Linked DNA regions of Homo sapiens. The protein of the gene in region 2 interacts with the protein of the main gene of each other region in a pairwise test. Each region holds a gene or a part of one and is shown on either strand. Other genes may lie near its edges.

Region 1 (6,170 bases), on a different chromosome or scaffold from region 2:
CAAAGAAAAGTCAGAGATAAAGTCATACTCAAAATGTATGCCATGGCCGCATGGTTGTTAGAGGTGGCCAAAAAGTTGGCTCTGAGCATCCTCACAGCCAAGGCAAGGAAAGAGAATGTGAACTTCAGGAGAAGCATGGCTTTTCATAGTACTTAAAACAAAAGAACCTCTCCTGTTGTCCTCAAATAGGAGCCACAAAAGCATCCTTAGGATGCCAGCAAGAAGTTCCAAAACAGTGTTTCTTATACCACCACACCCCACACACCCCTGTCTTAAGGCAATCCCTGTCCAGGAAGAGCAATTCTGTGAGGTATCAAAGGGCCTGATCCTCAGCTATAATTAGGTCTGGTTTGATGCAAGGCTAAAATCTCACAGTGTTGGTTTTGAGCCCGATGAGGAAGGCAGAGGGCCAGCCTGGCTGTGCATTTGGAACCAGTCCCTGTGGTGGTTCTGATAAGTGCTTCTTTAGCCCACAGCCCCCGGGGGCACCAGTGGAAAGGGCTGGCGAGGGGGCTGTGCTTAGGCCCCATGGATGTGGCTTCTTACAGTAACCATCCTCAGGATCTAAGTGATGTGTTCTGACTAAAGCTTGAAGGGTTTGCTCCTGCTGCCAATTAGGCAAGGCCCACATACCCCTGTGCTTTGAGATGTGAACCCAGCAGGCTCTTCATCTCCATTGCACTTTGAGTGGGGCTGACAGGTAACTGGGCTGAGGCCAGGGCTGGGAGCTGGCATTTGAGCACTGGTCGAGGGAAGGCTTCTGGGAAAGGGACTCCCTGGCCTTGGTATAGATGGTGATCCCACGGCCCAGGCAAGACAGGCTTTGCTTGGGTGGACAGGCGCTGGGGGAAGTGGACGGGTGAAGGGAAGAGGAGGCAAGGTGGAGTTGGTATTGCATCCTTCCTAGCCCAGCCAAACCAAGAGCCAAGTCCCTAGGTGTTTGCAGAGAAACAGAGCAGTAGCCAAAGGGTACAGTGCACAGGGCTAAGTGGGGTGGCAGCTTGTCCAGGAGAGTCATCTTCCTTAGCCCGTCCCCCTGCAGTGATCGACATCAAGCTGGACAAACCCCAGGAGCCCCCGGCCAGCGAGGGCGGCTGCTCCTGCTAATGCAGAGCCGACCTGTGGCTTCCCATGACACTCCTTGCTTGTTGTGTTGCTTCCTATTGGCTAGCTTCCTAAGGGGGGAGGGAACCGAGTTATCAAGATGGGAGGATTTTTCTTTTCTCTCTGTCTTTAGGAGTAGGGTGGGATGGGGAGGGAGGCTGGGCATCAGGGATCACATCACTCTTAACGGCTGTTACTTAAACAACTATTTTTTGGTTTGGTTGTAATATATTGTACTTTATTAAGATTGCCAAAAACTGTTAAAATTTAAAAAAAATTTAAATCATGTGTATACAATTTTTTGCCAGATAAAAATGTAGTCATTTTTATTTGAAAGATGTGCTTTTTGTTTTTGTATATTTGTAAACTTATAGAGAACCTTTTCCACACACCTCCTCCTTCCTGTTCTCTTTGAACCATTCATCACCTCTGCCTTCCTCCTATCCCCAGCCCAATAAATTAAAACAATTAACTGAGCAAATTAATTAGGCTTCAGTCTGGGGCCATCTGGCCCCACTCTCTAGGCCCTACTCCAGTTAAATCAAACATTGGTTGAACACATCAGCCTCTGAAAAGGTAGCTCTGACTCTTGTCTTTCCATGGCCAGAGTGGGTCGTCAACCTCGTGTGGAGCTGAGACCAAGGTCTGTGGGCTCTAGGCAGCCCGGCAGCAGCCCCCAGAGGAACTGCTCCCACCTCTCCTTCTCTTTCCCTGAAAAGCCTTGAAGGGGGTTGAGGGTACAGGCAACCTTGTGTTCTCTGTGCCCTCAGGGACTGGCAGAGCAAGAGGCCATCAGAAGGACGAGGTGCTGTTGGCAATTGCAGCTGCGTGGTGCGTGGTTTATAGACTGGGGTGCCATGTGTACTTCTGAAAATATTTTAACCAGCCCACCCAGCAGTCAGTACACATGCCTGGGCCAAGTCTAAGAAACTCAGTGTGTGATGTTGGGCAGTGTGCCATCCTGAAGCCTTCCTCCTGGATGTCAGGGAAGCTGGACCACCTGGAGTTGATCCTCTGTGATGGGGAGGCGGGGGGGGGGGGGGGTGTTGTCTGCAGAACCACCACCTTGAAAGATCCATGTTCTTAGAGCCTCAGCTGCTAATATTGTTGAGTGCTTTCTGGAAAAGCTGATTTGTTGCTATGTTTTCACCCCAGTGGCATGGCGCAGTTGAAGTCTTTGTGGACATATCTTTGTGGCTACTGTGGCTGCGCTGTGGTCACCTGAGGATGTGGTTCAGGTGGGGTCTCCAGAAGGCTGCTTGCCCCCAGAGAGCCATCTCTTCCATTTTTGATTCATTCCTGAGAATGGCTTAGTCCTGAGAATCTGCAAAGTCTCTGAAGAGAACTCTCTCTTCCCACTAAGTGATATAACCTACTTGGCCAGCATTCCAAATAGACTCAGACTCACTGCCCTGAGCCTGCACAGAGCCAGGTGCAATGGGCAGTGAGTCTGGCCAAAATGTAAACCCCACCCTCCCTGCTGTCATTGGCTCTCCCTCCAGGCTGCTGCTGGGCATGTCATAGATGGGATGAATGACCATCTGGGGTATGGTGGGCTGAACTCCACAAGGTCGTTGGAATGAATTTTGAAACTTCTCAGAAATTAATCTGAAATGGCAGGCAGTAAGTGCAGCAGAATCTGGCAGGACTGATATTTGTGCAGTGGGCCTGCCACACACCCTCTGCCTAGGAGGCTGTATGCCAGAGCTCATCTCTAGCAAGGAATTTATCTTCAGGTGAAGAAGAGAGGAAGCAGGATCCCACTGAGCACCTCTTGCAGAAGGCAAGGACCAATGTTTGAACGTGTTTCAGATGTCATGTGTTTAGTTTTTATATGTGTGTACATAATTATATATAGAGATAGACTTGTGTATACACCTTCCACAAACACATCCTCACGGAGATACATGTGCTCAATGTATATTCTTGTTTCTCCTGCTCTCAAGTTGGAACTTGCATTGTGATAAGTTTTGGAAATTCAAAAGTACTGCAACGTGTTGAAATAAGAAATACTTAATATTGTCAAATAACTTGTGATTGTCTTGCCATCAATAAAATAATGCATAGTTGTGTTAAACTACAGGCAAACATAGCCCACGGGAATATCTCCACCATTTCTCTATGTACTTTATATGCACGGGTGTGCATGCCTGTGTGGGCCAGTGTCCCCCCACCATGGGCACACCCCCAAGTGGTGCTTGTTGGAAGAGTGCTTACTTACCTCGAGAGAATTTACAGGAGTCCACATGACAGTGTCCTGCCTGGTTGGCAGCGGGGGCCATCACCTGTGGCCTCTGAGACCGCCCCATTTACAGGAATCTGCACTGGGTCTCAGTGAATGAACGTATGGTAGATTTTTATTTTCTTGGCACTAAAGATTAGCTTTTTTAAAAAAACATCCCATAAAACAGTAGAAACTCAGTTCCCTTCTCAGGGGCACACACATCCAAGGCACCGTGGACTGTGTTTCCATCCTGGCCTAGAGGAGCAGTAAAAGATAGCATTTGGTTTGACATGGCCTTAGTGAGTCCTGCCTTTCCTAGCATGCACACAACATCCTCTCTTTGAGTTTGGGTTCTCCCCAGCCCCTTGGCCTCTGAGGCTGAGGGTGGCTTCCTCCCATCCTCCCATCTCAGTGGTTCCATGGCGCTCCCTTCGGCACGTGCGGTTTCCGCCCCTCCCTTCCTGGGGTGTGGAAAGGCAGCCAGACCTCTTTTTCAGAAGTTGTTGGTTCCCTGATTTTTGTCTTGAGCAGGCACCATCCCTGTCCCCTTGCTTGCAGGTAGAATTGGCACAGAGTTAAGGTTCCATAATAAACTGTTAGGTGCTCTTGAAGAAGATGTCATGGCATTGCCTCAGCACCCCAGCAAGAGCATTGCATCTTTGCTGAATCCAGATGGGTTAGCAGAGGGCAAATTGGAGGATTCCTTTGAGGAAATGTTCTCAATTGAGCAATTCAGTCCCTCTCCCCAAAGACTAGACGTGACCTGGCAGATTAGCAGGATCCTCTTGGCCTTCTTTTTTGGGGATGGTGGGAGTGAAGGGGGTGAATCTTAAAAGCTTATCAACAAAGCTCCTGTTCTGCAGGCATCAGGAAAGTTGAGTGTAAGATGGAAAAAGCAAACAGCCTATTTACAAGTGGAAACACATTGGTTCTGATCACTCCTAACTTGCTGGGTGATCATACATACATCAACATGAAGGTGTGACATCAGAATCATGAGCACCATGGCTGCAGTTGTGTGATCCAAGGCTAGTTGGCTTGGTAGCTGTTGGCAGCAGTTTCCCTTGGTCAGAGGCCTCCTTGCTATCTATCGCTGCTCTCTTCTTGTCATCCTTAAACATTCAGTCATGTTCCCAGGTCTGAGGGGAGCAATGGCCAGACCAGTTTCAGTATCTCTGGCAACAGAAACAAGGATTGAAATGGTGGTAGTTAAGAGTGCAGACACATCTGGGGTGCAACGTCTGCATCATCCTGGTGGCTAGCCAGTGCGGGGAGGCCCTGCCCTGGGATACCAGTTGTGACAATAAAGGGATGGCCCTCCTGGCTTCAGCATCCTGCAGGTAGAGCAGCCTCATTCCTTCACAAGATGGAAGGCAGGTGAGGATGTCAGGATGAGATGGGACCAGGTAGCCGAGGACAGTGAGGCATGTCTGAGCCACTTGAGGGGCAGCTGAACAGAAGGATGTCTGTGTGCATCAACCGAGCAGATTGTGCGCACACTCGTTTCCGAACTGCCTCTCCCCAAAGAATGTGAGGCATTGTCACCTTGTTACAGCTATGTGAAGCAGAGCTGTCACAACTTTTCCTGTCTACAGGCAGGAAAACCAGGATGGAGAAGGGCAACTTGCTTATTAAGATCACCCAGCAAGTTAGGAGTGATCAGAACCAGTGAAGTTTCCATTTTTCATCCATTGCTGCCCTGTGTGTGAACAAATGTGACTCCATATTTATTACACAGCAAGGACTGCTGTGTGTGGGTGTGTTCCTCAGACCATCTCTACTCTTTTTGGTTAGGACACTAGGTTCTTCCCAGCATATGAGTGAGAATATTGGTGGTATTTTGGGCTCCTCTACTGCACAAGGGCCAGTCCCCAAGTCTACTCTGATTGATTGTCATGGGCACCCACACAGATCAGGACACCCTTTGAATTTTTGTTTGACATGAACTATTTAGGTGTTCCAAAACCTTGGGATCTCAATGTGCAAACTCCTTGGACTCCAGACCCCTGTCTGGTTGGCACTCCCAGCAGTGTGTGGTTTCATCAGGAAATCCTTGCAGCAGGGGTTTAGATGGTTCCTTCAGGAGGTGGGAAGCCTCCATAGCATTGAAGGCCAGCCTGCATCTCGCGGTGTGTGTCCACTTCTCCCCTCACTTTCCCCTCACCCATCCCTTTAAAGTGATTGGCTGTGAGGAGCACAGAGGGTGGCAATTCCATCTGTTATGGGCTCAGAAGACATAGCCGCCATGTTGATTTCACATTAAACTGTGTAAAATGTGGAAAAGACTCAGCATGTTGGTCAAACAATAAACTGTCCTAATTCTCAAAACAAAGCTTCTTGTCTGTGTTTAAGTGGTGCAGTCATAAATGGGGGGGTTCAAAAACAGTTCCTGAAGTGTGTGCTCCACAGAGTCCCTTTTGTCATGCCTGGGTGGTATGTCCACTACCTAAAGCCCTTTGCTGCTTTGCTTCTTCCTCCTACTGGTGGAGTTGGGCTGTCCACCAACTCCGAAGGGGTAAAGATGGGACACACTCATGAGAGTAAATCCACACGCATTCCCCTAATCTCCATTCTGCTGAAAGGCTGATGGGAAGGGAGCCTCCAGGCAGAACTGAGTCAGGGGTACGATATATTCCTTCATCCCCACTCTGCTTGCCATGGCTAGGGGATTAGGAAGGGGGGAGAGGGTACAGGGACTGGATCTCTCATGCTTCTGGTGATTTTCAGAAAGCCATTTAAAGGCAAGAACTTAAGGTGAACTATAATGACCTTTGACAACATCTAGCTGCCATATTCCATCCCCAGCCCCACACCACACCAGTTAGGAACATCCCTGAGTGGC
Region 2 (7,022 bases):
ATTCTGCTAGTGATTTCTTGAGCCTGACTCAGTTAAGACCATATCTGTCCCCGTTCCCACTGTGCCCTTTCCCTTCCTCTCCCTGGAATGGTGGGGAAGAGAATTAGATGGGCTTTGGTCAGCAACCTGGTGTTCCTGGTCCTGCGTGGCCGTGAGACACTTTGTTCTGTGTTCTTAGCTGTAGCTTTAAGAGGACAGGTGTGCTGAGGTGGCAGCTCCTGCCTTCAGGGCACAGGCAGGGACTGTAGCTAGGTGGGCTAAGGCTAGGTGCCCATGTGGTCCTCATGGTCAGGGGAGGGTAATGGGGGAGGTCTGAGAACAGTCTTGACTCCACCTGAGCTCAGGCTCAGAGAGGAGGTCTGGACACCCTCACTGCCTTGGTGTGCCACCTTGGTGTCATAGTGTCAAGCTCTGGAGCACCATTGTCCTTGTCTGAGAGGTGCACGTGGGTGGAATTGGGTGTTGGACTGGGCACAGCACCCAACACGCAGCAAGTGCTTCGTAGGTCTTCTGCGGACTGAATCTCATGCCTCACTCAGGTCTCTGTCTCCTTGCTGCTGCACCTGCAGCTTCTCCCCGTTCTTATCCTTGTCCCTGCTCAGTCTCAAGTGGCTTCCATTGCCACCTCCCAAGGGCTGCCCTAAGCATTGTCTCAGGCCCCTACAGCCTGGCTTGGGACTGCCCTACCTCTCCTGTGCCCACATTCACCCTTTGTCTTAGAAGTCCCACCTGCCCTTCAAGCTTGGGTGTCTCTAAAATTCCCCTGCCTGCTGCCTTCTGGACTTGCTGAGCCCTGTTCCCAGCACCTGGGCAGCTGCAGGAAGTGGGGGCAATAGGGTGATTGGCAGAGGACCCTCCAGGAGGTTCCTCTGCAGAGTTACTGGGGGTGAGGCCCAGCCTCTTTGATTGTTTGCTTCCAGAGCAGGAAAAGTCCTGGTCTTGGTTAAAGCAAGTGTGGGATTCTCCCATTCGTCTGATAACCCCTGAGAACATTGTTGTGTCCATTTCTGAACAGAAGGCTGTTGGGAGCAAGGAGGCTCTGGGAGACCCAAGGGCCTTTCAGGGGGCTGGGTGGTGGCAGTGGTCTGCTGTTGGTATGAGGAAGCCTGGCTTGGGTGGGAGCTGGGGCCCTGTGAATACCTGAAGCACAGATGGGTCTGACAGTTGGGGAGAGGCAGCTATAGGCATCCAAAGATGATGACCATGTGGCTACACTGTTGTCACTAATTGTTGGGCAATTCTCTCCCCGCTGGGCCTCTCTTTCCCCACTTTTAGAATATGGGGCAGGGGGTCATGAAGGAATCTTTAGGGACCCTTACACTTTTAAAAATGTCTGAAACTCCCACATCGAGCCCTGGTGCTGTTTCTTCCTGTAGGGCCTGGCGACTGGGCACTTGTGTATCTCAATCATCCTGGGACCTGGCCAGGGAATCTGCCCAGCCCTAGGCATGCGGATGGTGTGCTCCAGGCCAGCCCTGCCAGCATGTGGAGGCGTGGACCTGGCCACCCTCCATGGGATTCAAGGCAGGCACAGCTGTGATGGAGCAGCTCGTCTTTGGGGATGCCAAGCGAGCATGCTTTGTGGCTTAGCAGGTGGATCCAGAGGAAGGCCAGGCCCAGTGCTGGGAGCCCCTGGGCCCCTGGGGGTGCCTGGCACCACCTGAGCAGGACCGACTGTATATGATGTCTGTCCCTGTGAACTCCATACTGACTCCACAGGGGGAGTCTGGGCCCTGCCTGGTCTCCCAGGAGCTTGCGGCCCTGGATGAGCCGCTGCCTGTCTGGGCCGTGATAGGTTAATGATGATGCCTGTTACCTTGGCCCAGTGCTCTGTGAGCCCCCAAGGTCAGGGAGTGGTGTCCCTGTGCCCTTGTGTCTGAGCATCCGGCCCAGGTCCATATAGGATTCCTGCTAGGTCTCCCCTGTCACTTAGGGACCACAGTCCCTTCCTTTGAGGGAGGAGATCAGTTTCTTCTTTGTCAGTTTTGGGCATCCCCCAGTCAGTCAGACCTGCTTCCCCACATAGGTGGACCAGATGAAACTGTTACACACATCGGGGGTAAGAAAGATTTGGTTTCTTCTCAGACAGTACACCAGCTGTTTGAGGTGGTGGTGGCTGGTGGCCAGGGCTGGCCAGGACTATGCAGGCTTTGACAGGTAAAGCATTGGCCTTAGACCCTGTGTTGTCCAGTGTTCAGAGTGTGGCCTCTGAAGCCGAACTCTGGAGCAGGAGAGGGCCCAATGTGGCTGCCTAGCTGCCTCCTTGGGCTCAAACCCTGCTGTCCCAAGCTGGGCTCTGCTCTGCTGTGGGAGGTGGATGGAGAGATGGGGACTGAGTGGCAGGCAGGCTCCCCTTGCCACCCTCAGAGCATTGCAGGCCAGGGTTAGGGTTAGGAGGAGGTCACTGGGGGCCCAGCTTCTTTTTTAGAAGCTACTGTGTTTTAAAAAATCATACATTCACTTTAAGAACAGCAGAAAGTGGAGAGAACAGTGTCAATAGGACCTGTGTAGATGGCGCAGGACAAATGTGGGGAGCACTGGGTGTTTCTCTCTGCCAGCTCTTCTTCCCTTGTGAGTGTGTGATGTGTACAAGACACCATCAAACACAGGGGAAAGGCTTTGTGCATCTGTAATAGTTGTTTTTTGTTAAAGTTAGTTTGTTGCTACTCTGAGATACATAAAAGCAGGTTTAATTCAAGTAGATAAAGACAGGAAGGTTTCTGTGGATCCAGAGGTTCTGTGGTACTTCTAACTTATACTGTTGTGTTACTATATGAAATAATTGTCATGGTTTGCTTTTTATAGTTGGCTTTTTACTTTTTAATTTATTATTATTATTATTTATTTATTTTGGTAGAGTCAGGGTCTCACTGTGTTGCCCAGGCTGCTCTTGAACTCCTGGGCTTGAGCGATCCTCCCGCCTTGGCCTGCAAAGTGTTGGGATTAGAGATGTGAGCTACCACGCCTGATCTATAGTTTGCTTTTTTTTTTTTGAGACGGAGTTTCGCTTTTGTTGCCCAGGCTGGAGTGCAATGGCGCGATCTTGGCTCACCACAACCTCCGCCTCCCAGGTTCCAGCGATTCTCCTGCCTCAGCCTCCCTAGTAGCTGGGATTATAGGCATGTGCCACCATGCCCGGCTAATTTTTTTTGTATTTTTAGTAGAGATGGGGTTTCTCCATGTTGGTCAGGCTGGTCTCGAACTCCTGACCTCAGGTGATCCGCCTGCCTTGGCCTCCCAAAGTGCTGGGATTACAGGCATGAGCCACCACGCCCAGCCTTTTTTTTTTTTTTTTTGAGACGGAGTCTTGTTATGTTGCCCAGGCTGGAGTACAGTAGCTCGATCTTGGCTCACTGTAACCTCTGCTTCCCGAGTTCAAGTGATTCTCATGCCTCAGCCTCCTGAGTAGCTGGGATTACAGGTGCGCGCCACCACACCTGGCTAATTTTTGTATTTTTAGTAGAGACGAGGTTTCTCCATGTTAGCCAGGCTGGTCTCGAACTCCTGACCTCGGGTGATCTGCCTGCCTCAGCCTCCCAAAGTGCTGGGATTACAGGCGTGAGCCACTGCGCCTGGCTGCTTTACTCATTATTTACTTATTTATTTATTTATTCATATTATTATTATTATTATTATTATTATTTGAGACAGAGTCTAGCTCTGTTGCCCAGCGTGGAGTGCAGTGGCACGATCTCGACTCACTGCAAACTCTGCCTTCCAGGTTCAAGCAATTCTCCTGCCTCAGCCTCCCGAGTAGCTGGGATTACAGGAGCCCACCACCACGCCCGGCTAATTTTTGTATTTTTAGTAGAGATGAGGTTTCACCATGTTGGTCAGACTGGTCTCAAACTGTTGACCTCAGATGATCCACTCGCCTCAGCCTCCCAAAGTGCTGGGATTACAGGCGTGAGCCACCGCGCCCAGCCTTTACTCATTTTTTAAAGCCACCTTCTTTGTTGGATGTTTCCACATAATCAAAGGTGGAGAGAGTAATAGAGTGAGTCCATGTATGCTCCTGCCCTGCACCTGCAGTTTGCAGCTGTGGCCGGTCTTGTTTCTACCGCAGTTCATCCTGTGTAGCTGTGTCTGTAAGTATATCAGTTGTTTTGCTAAGAAAATAGAATCTTTTCTTTTTTTTTTTGAGATGGAGTCTCACTCTGTCACCCAGGCTGGAGTACAATGGCGCGATCTCGGCTTACTGCAAGCTCCGCCTCCTGGGTTCACACCATTCTCCTGCCTCAGCTCCCCCCCGCCCCCCCGCAGTAGCTGGGACTATAGGCGCCTGCCACCATGCCCAGCTAATAGAAAATAGAATCTTTTCTTACAAAACTTAACCATTGTTGAACTTTCACACCTAAGAAACTAACAAAAATTCTTTAGTGTCATCTGTTGTCCAGTCAGTGTTTGGATTTCCCCAGTTTGGCTCATAAATTTCATTTTACAGTTACTTTGTTTCTTCAGAAGCCAAGCAGGATCTGCAGGTTGCATTTGGTTGAAGGCCTTCTCAATTTTTTTTTTTTTTTTTTTTTTTTTTTGGAGACAGTCTCGTTCTGTCGCCCAGGCTGGAGTGCAGTGGCGTGATCTTGGCTCACTGCAATCTCTGCCTCCTGTGTTCAAGCAACTCTCCTACCTCAGCCTCCAAAGTAGCTGGGACCATAGGTGCACACTGCCACACCTGGCTAATTTTTTGTATTTTAGTAGAGGCGGGGTTTCACCATGTTGCCCGGGCTGGTCTTGAATTCCTGAGTTCAGGCAATCAGTCTGCCTCGGCCCAGCAAGGTGCTAGGATTACAGACCTTGTCATTTTAAAGACAGCGCCATGTGTGGCCTGTCCTGTCCCCTTTCATACTGCACTGGCATTAGCCCTGGCTACTCTATTTTTATGCTGTGGAGGGTGCCGGTAGGCGGAGATTCCCACTTTATCTGCCCCTGCCAGACACCTTACTCTTGTCTTTCTCTTTTATTTCCTTTTTTTTTTTTTGAGACGGAGTCTCACTCTGTTGCCCAGGCTGTAGTGCAGTGGCGCGATGTCTGCTCACTGCAACCTCTGCCTCCCGGGTTCAAGCGATTCTCCTGCCTGAGCCTCCTGAGTAGCTGGGATTACAGGCGTGCACCACCACGTCTGGCTAACTTTTGTATTTTTAGTAGAGACAGGGTTTCATCCTGTTAGGCAGGTCTTGAACTCCTGACCTCATGATCTGCCTGCCTCGGCCTCCCAAAGTGCTGGGATTACAGGCGTGAGCCACTGTGCCTGGCCTCTCTTTTCTTTTTTAAAATATTAGCCAGGGGCCGGGCGCAGTGGCTCACGCCTGTAATCCCAGCACTTTGGGAGGCTGAGGCAGGCGGATCACGAGGTCAGCAGATCGAGACCATCCTGGCTAACACGGTGAAACCCCGTCTCTACTAAAAATACAAAAAATTAGCCGGGCTTGGTGGCAGGCACCTGTAGTCCCAGCTACTTGGGAGGCTGAGGCAGGAGAATGGCATGAACCCGGGAGGCGGAGCTTGCAGTGAGCCGAGATCGTGCCACTGCACTCCAGCCTGGGCAACAGAGCGAGACTCCGTCTCAGACAAAAAAAAAAAAAAAGTAGCCAGGGTGCCTCCTTCAGCTGATGCATCATGGCTTGGCTCTTGCATTGCTGCATTGTCATCACCTATTCTGGTTCATCTGTCGCCCCAGCCTTTACTGTGGAGCTCTGCCCACCTGAGGTGATGTTGTCATCTAGTGGGTGTAGATGCCAAGCCCTTCTAAACCAGAAGGGAGGAACTAGTATTGTCACTGTCCTACCATTGAGGGTGCTGAGGTCATAGTGAGGACCACTCATACTCTTACTAGCATGGCAGTGGACTCAGCCATTCTTGGCTTGACTTCTGTGACCTGGAGCCAGTCTCTCCCCTCTCTGGGCCTCAGTTTCCTTGTTTTAGGCCAGTGCATTCCTGACGCCCTTGGAGGTGGATCAATTTCTCCCTCTAGTGACAGCATCATGGCGGGCTCAGGCCCAGGACGCAGCTGCTTTGCAGGCATGTGTTGCCTGCTGCCTGGGCTCCCCATCTGCTTTGCTCTGCCCTTCTTCCTCACACCCATGTTCCCTCAGTACCACCCTCACAACATGCTGGGGTGTAAGGGCTGGTTGATGACAAGCATGTCCATAAGCCTAGGGGATTCCTTGGGTGTCCTAAAATGTGACCTAAGATAATTATCGGGGAACATGCCCCGATATTCACGTAAGTTCTTTTCATTTTCCTTAAGTGTCGGCCAGCTTGAGAAATAAAGGGACAGAGTACAAAAGAGAGAAATTTTAAAGCTGGGCATCCGGGGGAGACATCACATGTCGGTAGGTTCCGTGATGCCCCACAAGCCGCAAAAACCAGCAAGTTTTTATTAGGGAGTTTCAAAAGGGGAGGGAGTGTGCGAATAGGTGTGGGTCACAGACATCAAGTACTTTACAAGGTAATAGAATATCATGAGGCAAGTGGAGGCAGGGCAAGATCACAGGACCACAGGACCGAGGCGAAATTAAAATTGCTAATGAAGTTTCGGGCACCATTGTTATTGATAACATCTTATCAGGAGACAGGGTTTTGAGATCAACTGGTCTGACCAAAATTTATTAGGCGGGAATTTCCTCTTCCTAATAAGCCTGGGAGCGCTATGGGAAACTGGAGTCTATCTCACCTCTGCAATCTCGACCATAAGAGACAGGTATGCCCCAGGGGGGCCAGTTCAGAGACCTACCCCTAGGTGTGCATTCTCTTTCTCAGGGACGTTCCATGCTGAGAAAAAGAATTCAGTGATATTTCTCCCATTTGCTTTTGAAAGAAGAGAAATATGGCTCTGTTCTGCCCGGCTCACCAGTGGTCAGAGTTTAAGGTTATCTCTCTTGTTCCCTGAACAATTGCTGTTATCCTGTTCTTTTTTTCAAGGTGCCCACATTTCATATTGCTCAAACACACATGCTGTACAATTTGTGCAGTTAATGCAATTATTACAGGGTCCTGAGGTGACATACATCCTTCTCAGC
Region 3 (7,441 bases), on a different chromosome or scaffold from region 2:
TAAAAATACAAAAATTAGCCAGGTGTGGTGGCACGCACCTGTAGTCCTAGCTACTCGGGAGCCTGAGGCAGAAGAATCACTTGAACCCGAGAGAGGAAGGTTGCAATGAGCCGAGATCGCGCCACTGCACTCCAGCCTGGGCGACAGAGTGAGACTCCATCTCACCATCTCAAATAAAATAAATAAAATAAAATAAATCAGGTGCAGTGGCTCATGCCTGTAGTCTCAGGTACTCGGGAGGCAGAGGTAGGAGGATGGCTTGAGCCCAGGAGTTCAAGGTAACAGTGAGCCTCAATCACACCACTGGACTCCAGCCTGGGCAACAGAGCAAGACCCTGTATCAAAAAAAAAAAAAAAAAAGTGCCCCACCCTGGCTGGCCCAGTTCAGACCTCCTGCAGGAGCCTGGGAGCTGAGCCCCGCCCAGGCCAGGCCTCCAAGGAAGCGCCAGGATCGGAAAGGAACCGAGATTAGGGTTTCCCCAGGAAAGCAGCCTAGCCCCCGCCCCTGGGACCAGATAACCCGGGGGCTCCCACTCCTCCCAGTGGGGACCGGGCCTTCCCCAACTAGTGCCCTGAAGGTGCAGAGGCCACTCCACCACTTGAGGTCCAGTCCTGGCTCTGCCCTGCCCTGGCTGGGTGAGCCAGGGGTCAGGGCCTCACTAGAGACTTAGTTTCGTCATCTGTAAAATGGGCGGCTGCTGGGAGCAGATCAGAGCGCCTGGCATGACCCTGGCACTGTGGTTTCTGGGAGGAGCCGGGGGCTGAAGGCAGCACATGAGGTGCCCGCCTGGGCTGCCAGGGACAAACAGGAAGCAGATGAAAATAACTCGGCAGGAAGCAGGGCTGTCAGCGGCCGCGTGGAGGAGAAAACGGAACTGCCGGCCTGCAGGCCGCTGGGTCCCAGCACCTCCGCCGCCTGATGACCCCATCCTGCCCCTCGCCATGCCTCCTGAATCTCTCTCCACCCAGACCTCAGCCAACCCCCAGTTTGCTTCATTCCAAGACACAGATCTGCCCCCATCTGTCCTGTGCTCTAACACCTTCTATGGCTCCCCATTGCCCTTCTGCCTGGCGTTGTCATGCCTTCATCCTACACCAGCGGCACCCCACACCTTGGCCCCCAAATGCATTCTCTGTTTCCGTGTTTCTGAGCCTGTGCATGGGACATTTCCTCTGCCTTTCCCTCCTAATTGCCATCAGATCCTTTAAAAAAAATAAAGTGGGCACCCTCTTGAGCCAGTGTACGCTCAGGGACTCCCCCACCAAACTCCTACACATCCCTCAGAGCCTTAGCTGTCATGGCCTCTTCCACACAGCCCTCCCTGCCATCTGAGCCTCCCTCCCTTCTGAGCCTCCCCAAGTCCCTCCCTCCATCCTCCCTTGGGTCTGGCTCTGTCTTCCACCCAGGCCTCGGTGTCCCCGTGGCTCTCACCGTCACGCAACACACACTCCTTAAGTTTCTCAAGGCCCTCAGCGAAGCGGGCCACGTCCGCCAGCAGATGGGAGATGTCCTCGACGACGTCCGGGCCGGCACCCTCGGTGGGCAGCTCGCCCGGGCTGGCGGCTGTCAGTGGGCTCCGGTGGCTCCGGCCCAGTGTCCAGGAGGCAGCACCCGACAGGGGGAAGCCAGCCGCGCTGGCGTGGCGGCTCAGGCTGGTGGGCCGCTTGAGGGTCCCTGTGGCCTTGACGCCGGAGGACCCAGCGGGCGGCTCCAGGCTTGGTCCGGGGAACACCGCGTCAGCCCCATCCTTCCTGGGCAGCTCCTTGGGCAGGTCCGAGGGGAGCTCGTTAAAGGGATTTTCCGGCCTGGACACGGCCTCAGTTTCCCCAGAAATGAAGTGGGGCTGTGGAGGGCCACCATCACCCTGACCCCACAGGGGTCAAAGGCCAGAGGTCACAGGGCCGAGATTTGGTAGTGTACCCCCCCACCTGTTACCCAACATCCTCTTCCCTAGAGCTTTCACAAACAACGGTCCTTGCCCAAACCACAGCCGGGGCGGGGCCTGCGGGGAGGCGCGGGAGGGGGGTCCCCACTTCCTGGTGGGGGTGGGGAGGGTCCTCAGCCCTTCAAGCCCCCCTCAGGCTCCTACAACGCAGGTGCTTTAAGTGAACACACTTCTGACTCTGTCTGTCCCCTAAAGGTCCATGGAACCCCAGAGCCTATGGGCAGCCCCAGGCCTTGTAGACATCCCGGACCCCCAAGCTCTGTAGACCCCCCCCCCAGCTTTGTAGACACCCCAGGCCTGGGGACACTCCCCAACCTCTGAACCTGGTGGATCCCATTAGAGGATCTGCTGCCCGGTCAACCTTCAGCCCAATGGCCAGGCCACAGCCCTCCCATCTCAACGGCCCCTAGAGCCCCCAGATTGCCTAAGCCCCCAACCTGCAGCGGCCCAAACACAACATCGTCCCAACCCGGCACCCTCCCTTCCTGCTCCCTGGGCCCCGCGGCCAGCCCTGGATGGAGTGGAGGGAGGCGGCCACCACTCCCAGGGTCCCTACCGTGAGCTGAATGCCGGGGTCCCGGCCTCTCTGCTGTGGCCCCTGCCGTCCCGCCCGGTAGGGGCTGTAGCTGGCACGAGCCCCCAGCCGCCGCCCCAGCATGAGCCCCGAGCACAGGGCGGGTCCCTGTCCCCCTGCGGCCCGGCGTCAGCTCCGGGTCTCACCCGGGCTCCACTCACCCCCGAGGGCTGCGGGCTGGGGCTTCCCGCGCGGTTCTTTTTCGAGATGGAAGGGGTTTTCATGAGCTCTCGTTTCTTCCTGGAGAACATGATGGGGCCCCGGCCGGGAGCCCGAGGGGGCGGGCTGGGGGTCTCAGCGCTGCAGCTCCCGGCGCTGGCCGCTTCGGGACCACATTGTCGCCGGCCACCCCCTCCCCAGCTGTCAGGCCCACGTGACAGGCCCGGCCGTCACTGGCGGGCCCTCCCCCCAACAGGAAAAGGCTTCGGGGAGGCGGCGACGCGGCCTCGCCCCCGACCCTTCCCGGCCTCAGCCTGCGGCTCTGCGGAGTGGGCGCGAAGGTGAGGTCGCAGGCCCCGCCCCCAGCCCCGGGCCGCGCCCCCCGCTTCCGCCTTCGGGAGCTCGGAGCCGCGCCGCTCGCGGGGTGGGACCGGGAGCCCCTGCCTGACGCTGGCGGGCACGGGGCGGCCGACTGCAGGGCGCTGACTCTCACTCCCGGACGCGAGTGGGCGTGCACAGACACGTGCACGATGACACGCAGAGACCCGGACCTCCACACGCGCTCAGACGCCACCAAGCCCCTGGAGCCTCGCCCTCAGACCCCAGACACACGCACAGGCCGAAGCTGCGCCCCTGCAGCCCCCTTTTCCCTGAAGGCAAGCCCGCTCCACCGCCTCTCCTGCAGACCCTAGGGTGTGGCCGGGCCCCAGCAGGGCCGGGCAGAGTAGGGTCCCCCCCATCACCCGCCCTGCAGCCCCGTGAAGTGGGTCAGGTCGAGGACAGGTGGGGAAACTGAGGCCCAGAACCGAAACCCTGGGGGCAAAGACGTCCAGGAAGTCAGAACAATCCAGGTTACCGGGCCCTGTCCGTCTGGGTCCCCACGTCCGTCTGGGTCCCCACGTCCACCTGGTCCTGGGCTGCCTGCACAGGGGTCCCCAAAGTGTGGTGTGGACCCCACCATCGGCAGAATATGCTGAGGACACCTGGTTACCTCTCAGCAGCCCTGTGGGCCATATCATGTTGCCCCAGACCTGCCCTTAGCTAAGGTCCCCAGCCCCGCCTCCCAAGCTGCATTCCAGTGACTCTGGACCACCGGACGTGCTGGGCAGCAGGACGCAGGCACCCGTTGCTGATAACAGCCTGAGGCGGCATTGGCCAAGAGCTGGGGCATCTGCAGGCATACAGATCCCAGCCTCCTACCTTCCCCCAACCCCCACCCCGCAGTGTGAACTCTCTCCCCCCTCCCCAAGTCTCCCTGCTGTCCCCTTCCAGAACCCCACCCCCAATCCCAAAACCCCAACCTCTTTCCTTTCCCAAACCCCATTCCCACCTACCTCGGGTGGGAGGGGCAGATCTCTGGGGCACAGGACATGAAGGCCACAGCCCCTTGCTCCAAGTCTGGCTCTCCAGGCCCAGGTCCAAGTGCAAACCCAGCCCAGCAGACCCTTGAGAACTCTTTGCCCCCGACTCATGGCGCTGAGGGCTGGGGTCAGAGGGTGAGGGTCAGCTGGATGTCGGATGGGCTTCTGGCCCGGCCCTGGCCTGTGCTCCGGGACACCGGGCTCCTGTAAGCTTCCCAGGACATTCCTGAGTCCTGACCTCATCCCCACTTTATGGCCAGGCACTTACAGGTACCGCCCTTAGGCGCCAGCCCCACATAGGCACGCAGGGACGTGGGGACAGGGACGGTGTGACCAGGCCCTTATGAGGCCCGCACTCACATCCCCAACTCCTGGGCTGGCCACAGAGGCATTTACAGCTGGGATCCGGTCAGCTGTAGGCACGCTCACACCTGTGTCCTATGAATCGCCACTTGGCCCGTATGTGCACACTCAGCTTGCAAGGGGCCAGCCATATCCAGACGCATGTGCAGGCAGCTGTGTGGACATGTGTGCAGCCTGGCTCAAGGACACACATGCACACGGTTTCACCACCACGGCTTCTCTCCAGCCTTCTCTTTATTTTCTCCAGGGCACCAGCCCCTCTGCCAGCCTGAGTCCAGGGCTCCTAGGCACTCTACCTTGCCCTTGCCATTCCCAGGGCCTCCCCGCGGCCCCGCAGGGGAGGGAGGCTCAGAGCACAGTCTCGGCAGTGCTAGGGTCATCGAGGAACTGGCTGACGCGTTTGGGGTGCTGCAGGCCTGGCGCGGGGTCCACTCCCACTCCTGCCTCCTTCTGCTCTTCGGTGTCCTCGTCCTTCCCCTGGTCCTTGGAGAAGTACAAGAATACCTAGCGGTGGGCAGCCCAGAGGGGACAAGAGGGACGGTCAGCCCACGGGCCTGGCCCCCAGCCTGCCTCCCCCAGCCCGACCCCGGCGCCGTGATCACCTCCTCCAGCATCGTCTGGCTCACGGAAAAGTCCTCCACGCCGTGCTCTGCGCCGTGCACCGCCAGCTCTCCAAAGACGCGCGCCAGGGCGCAGCGCCCTCCCGGCGGCAGCTGGAAGCGCAGGCGGCCTCCATGTGCCTCGCGCAGCTCCGCCCCAGGGAACTCGGCCGCCACGAAGGCCGCTGCCGGCTGGGACCTTGCGGCGGGCACCCGCAGGGTCAGTGTGTGACCCGCCGCGAATCTGCAGTGAGTGGGGCCAGGGCTACCGGATCGGGCCTTTCCCAGGTCCCACCTCAGCTCACCCTCCAGCCCCTAATACTCTCTGGCCCCGCCCCATACTTGTACTACCCTAGCGATCAAGTGGTCCTCCCGTCTCAGTCCCCCGCCACCCCCCGCCCGCGTAGCTGAGACCACAGGCACACACCACCATGTCCAGCTAATTTTTAAATTTTTTATAGAGATGGGGTCTCCCTAGGTTGCCCAGGTTGCTCTCGAAGCTATCACCCCACTTGACTCCTTTTTCGGACACTCCTCTTTCGCCCTTGCACTCTACCCCCGCCCACACAATAAATACCCCCGCCCCACTTTCCTATGGCCCCGCCCACTAACCAGGCCCTCCCCTAACTCCACCCATCAATCCACCCTCACCTCTCCAGGCTGCACCTACTCCAACGCACACCTGATTGTGTCTTCTAAATCCACCCAGAGCCCCCGGCTCACGCCTCCTGGTCCTGCGCCCCCAGCACACCCCAGCCTGTCTCGCCCCCTCAGTCACCCCTGCAGGACAATCTAAAGCCTTGGCCATCTCTCCAGTTGGAGCCAAACTTTCCTCACCCGGCTCTACGTCTGGCCTCTCCCCTGAGCCTACCTACGTGCCCACCCTCACCCCACACCTGCCTGGAGGCCGCGCCGGCTCACCTGCCCTTGAGATGTTGCGGGCTGCCCAGGCAGCGGAACCGCCCATTCACCATGATGGCCAGGCGCGAGCAGAGCGCTTCACACTCCTCCATGCTGTCGGGACCCGGCACCACGAGCTCCGTGAGGCCGGGGCCACCTGTGCCTGGCGCCACACTGCCTGCTTCCCCCGGCCTGGGCCACCCTTCTGGTGTGGACATCTCCCCACTCTTCCCCAGACCGTTCTGATCCCGGCGCCGCGTCCCACCTCTGTGTGTCCTTACACCCCGGGGCCTGGCGCCCTCGCCCCACTAGGGCCAGGACCCCCCATCCCCTGTGGCCTTGTGCTTTGGGGCTCTCTCTCCAGGCCTGGATCACCTTAACCACAGCCCAGGGCATCAGAGCCCGGCCCACCTATGGGAGGTGAGCATCACTGAACGGCCCTCCCGCACCACGGCCAAAAGGCTGTTCCAAAGGAAGCGCCGCGCGCTGGGGTCCATGCCTGTGGTCGGCTCGTCCTGGGGAGCACGGAAGATCCCATAAGCAAGGCCCCGCCTCCGTCGCAGGCCCCACCCCACCCAGGCACCGCTCCCACGCACCAGAAACACCACGGCTGGGTCCCCAACCAGCGCCAGGGCCGTCGCCAGCTTGCGTTTGTTCCCTCCGCTGTAGGTGCCTGCAGGCCGGTCTGCGTACCATGAGAGTCCCAGACGCGCCAGGCCCGAGCCAGCGGTCTGTGGGGTGGGGCCAGAGTAGGCATGGGGACTCATATTGATGAGTATGGGGCAGGGCCACAGTGTGGCGGGGCCAGCATTGAGTGTGGAGCAGGGGCATAATGGGCATGGGGCAGGGCAAATGTGAGAATGGGACATAGTGTGGTGGGGGCAGCATGAGTATGGGGCGGGGCCATGGTGTGGGTGGAGCCAGCATGAGTATGGGGCGGGGCCATGGTGTGGGTGGAGCTGGGATGGGTGTGGGGCAGGGCCATAGTGTGGGTGGAGCCAGCATGAGTATGGGGCGGGGCCATGGTGTGGGTGGAGACAGCATGAGTATGGGGCGGGGCCACACTGGTGGAGCCAGCATGAGTATGGGGCGGGGCCATGGTGTGGGTGGAGCCAGCATGAGTATGGGGCGGGGCCACACTGGTGGAGCCAGCATGAGTATGCGGCGGGGCCATGGTGTGGGTAGAGCCAGCATGAGTATGGGGCAGGGCCATGGTGTGGGTGGAGACAGCATGAGTATGGGGTGGGGCCATGGTGTGGGTGGAGCCAGCATGAGTATGGGGCGGGGCCATGGTGTGGGTGGAGCCAGCATGAGTATGGGGCGGGGCCATGGTGTGGGTGGAGCCAGCATGAGTATGGGGCGGGGCCATGGTGTGGGTGGAGCCAGCATGAGTATGGGGTGGGGCCTTGGTATGGGTGGAGCTGGGATGGGTATGGAGCAGGGCCATGGTGTGGGTGGAGCCAACATGGGTATGAGGCAGGGCCAGAAAGGGCATGGGGTGGGACAGTGTGAGGGTGGGGCGGGCCAGGGCAAAGACAA

What was found. Proteins that work in one complex are often made in the same cells at the same time.
Region 1: the proteins of BICD2 (region 2) and RAB6B interact in binary tests that used the Homo sapiens proteins (3 or more experiments, as listed by UniProt).
Region 3: the proteins of BICD2 (region 2) and ARHGAP45 interact in binary tests that used the Homo sapiens proteins (3 or more experiments, as listed by UniProt).

Annotation. Positions count from the first base shown.
Region 1 is NC_000003.12:133,823,725-133,829,894, reverse strand, and holds the end of RAB6B (ras-related protein Rab-6B), read left to right. Parts: intron 1-1,042; coding exon 1,043-1,107; 3' UTR 1,108-5,660; downstream 5,661-6,170. UniProt on the Homo sapiens protein: The small GTPases Rab are key regulators of intracellular membrane trafficking, from the formation of transport vesicles to their fusion with membranes. Rabs cycle between active GTP-bound and inactive GDP-bound states.
Region 2 is NC_000009.12:92,754,826-92,761,847, reverse strand, and holds part of BICD2 (protein bicaudal D homolog 2), read left to right. Parts: intron 1-7,022. UniProt on the Homo sapiens protein: Acts as an adapter protein linking the dynein motor complex to various cargos and converts dynein from a non-processive to a highly processive motor in the presence of dynactin.
Region 3 is NC_000019.10:1,062,736-1,070,176, reverse strand, and holds the start of ARHGAP45 (rho GTPase-activating protein 45 isoform 1 precursor), read right to left. Parts: upstream 3,011-7,441; 5' UTR 2,772-3,010; coding exon 2,682-2,771; exon of another isoform or gene 2,605-2,681; coding exon of another isoform or gene 2,503-2,604; intron 1,764-2,502; coding exon 1,433-1,763; intron 1-1,432. Other genes in the region: phospholipid-transporting ATPase ABCA7, read right to left, coding at 4,752-4,907, 5,006-5,246, 5,924-6,016, 6,314-6,417, 6,499-6,633. UniProt on the Homo sapiens protein: Contains a GTPase activator for the Rho-type GTPases (RhoGAP) domain that would be able to negatively regulate the actin cytoskeleton as well as cell spreading.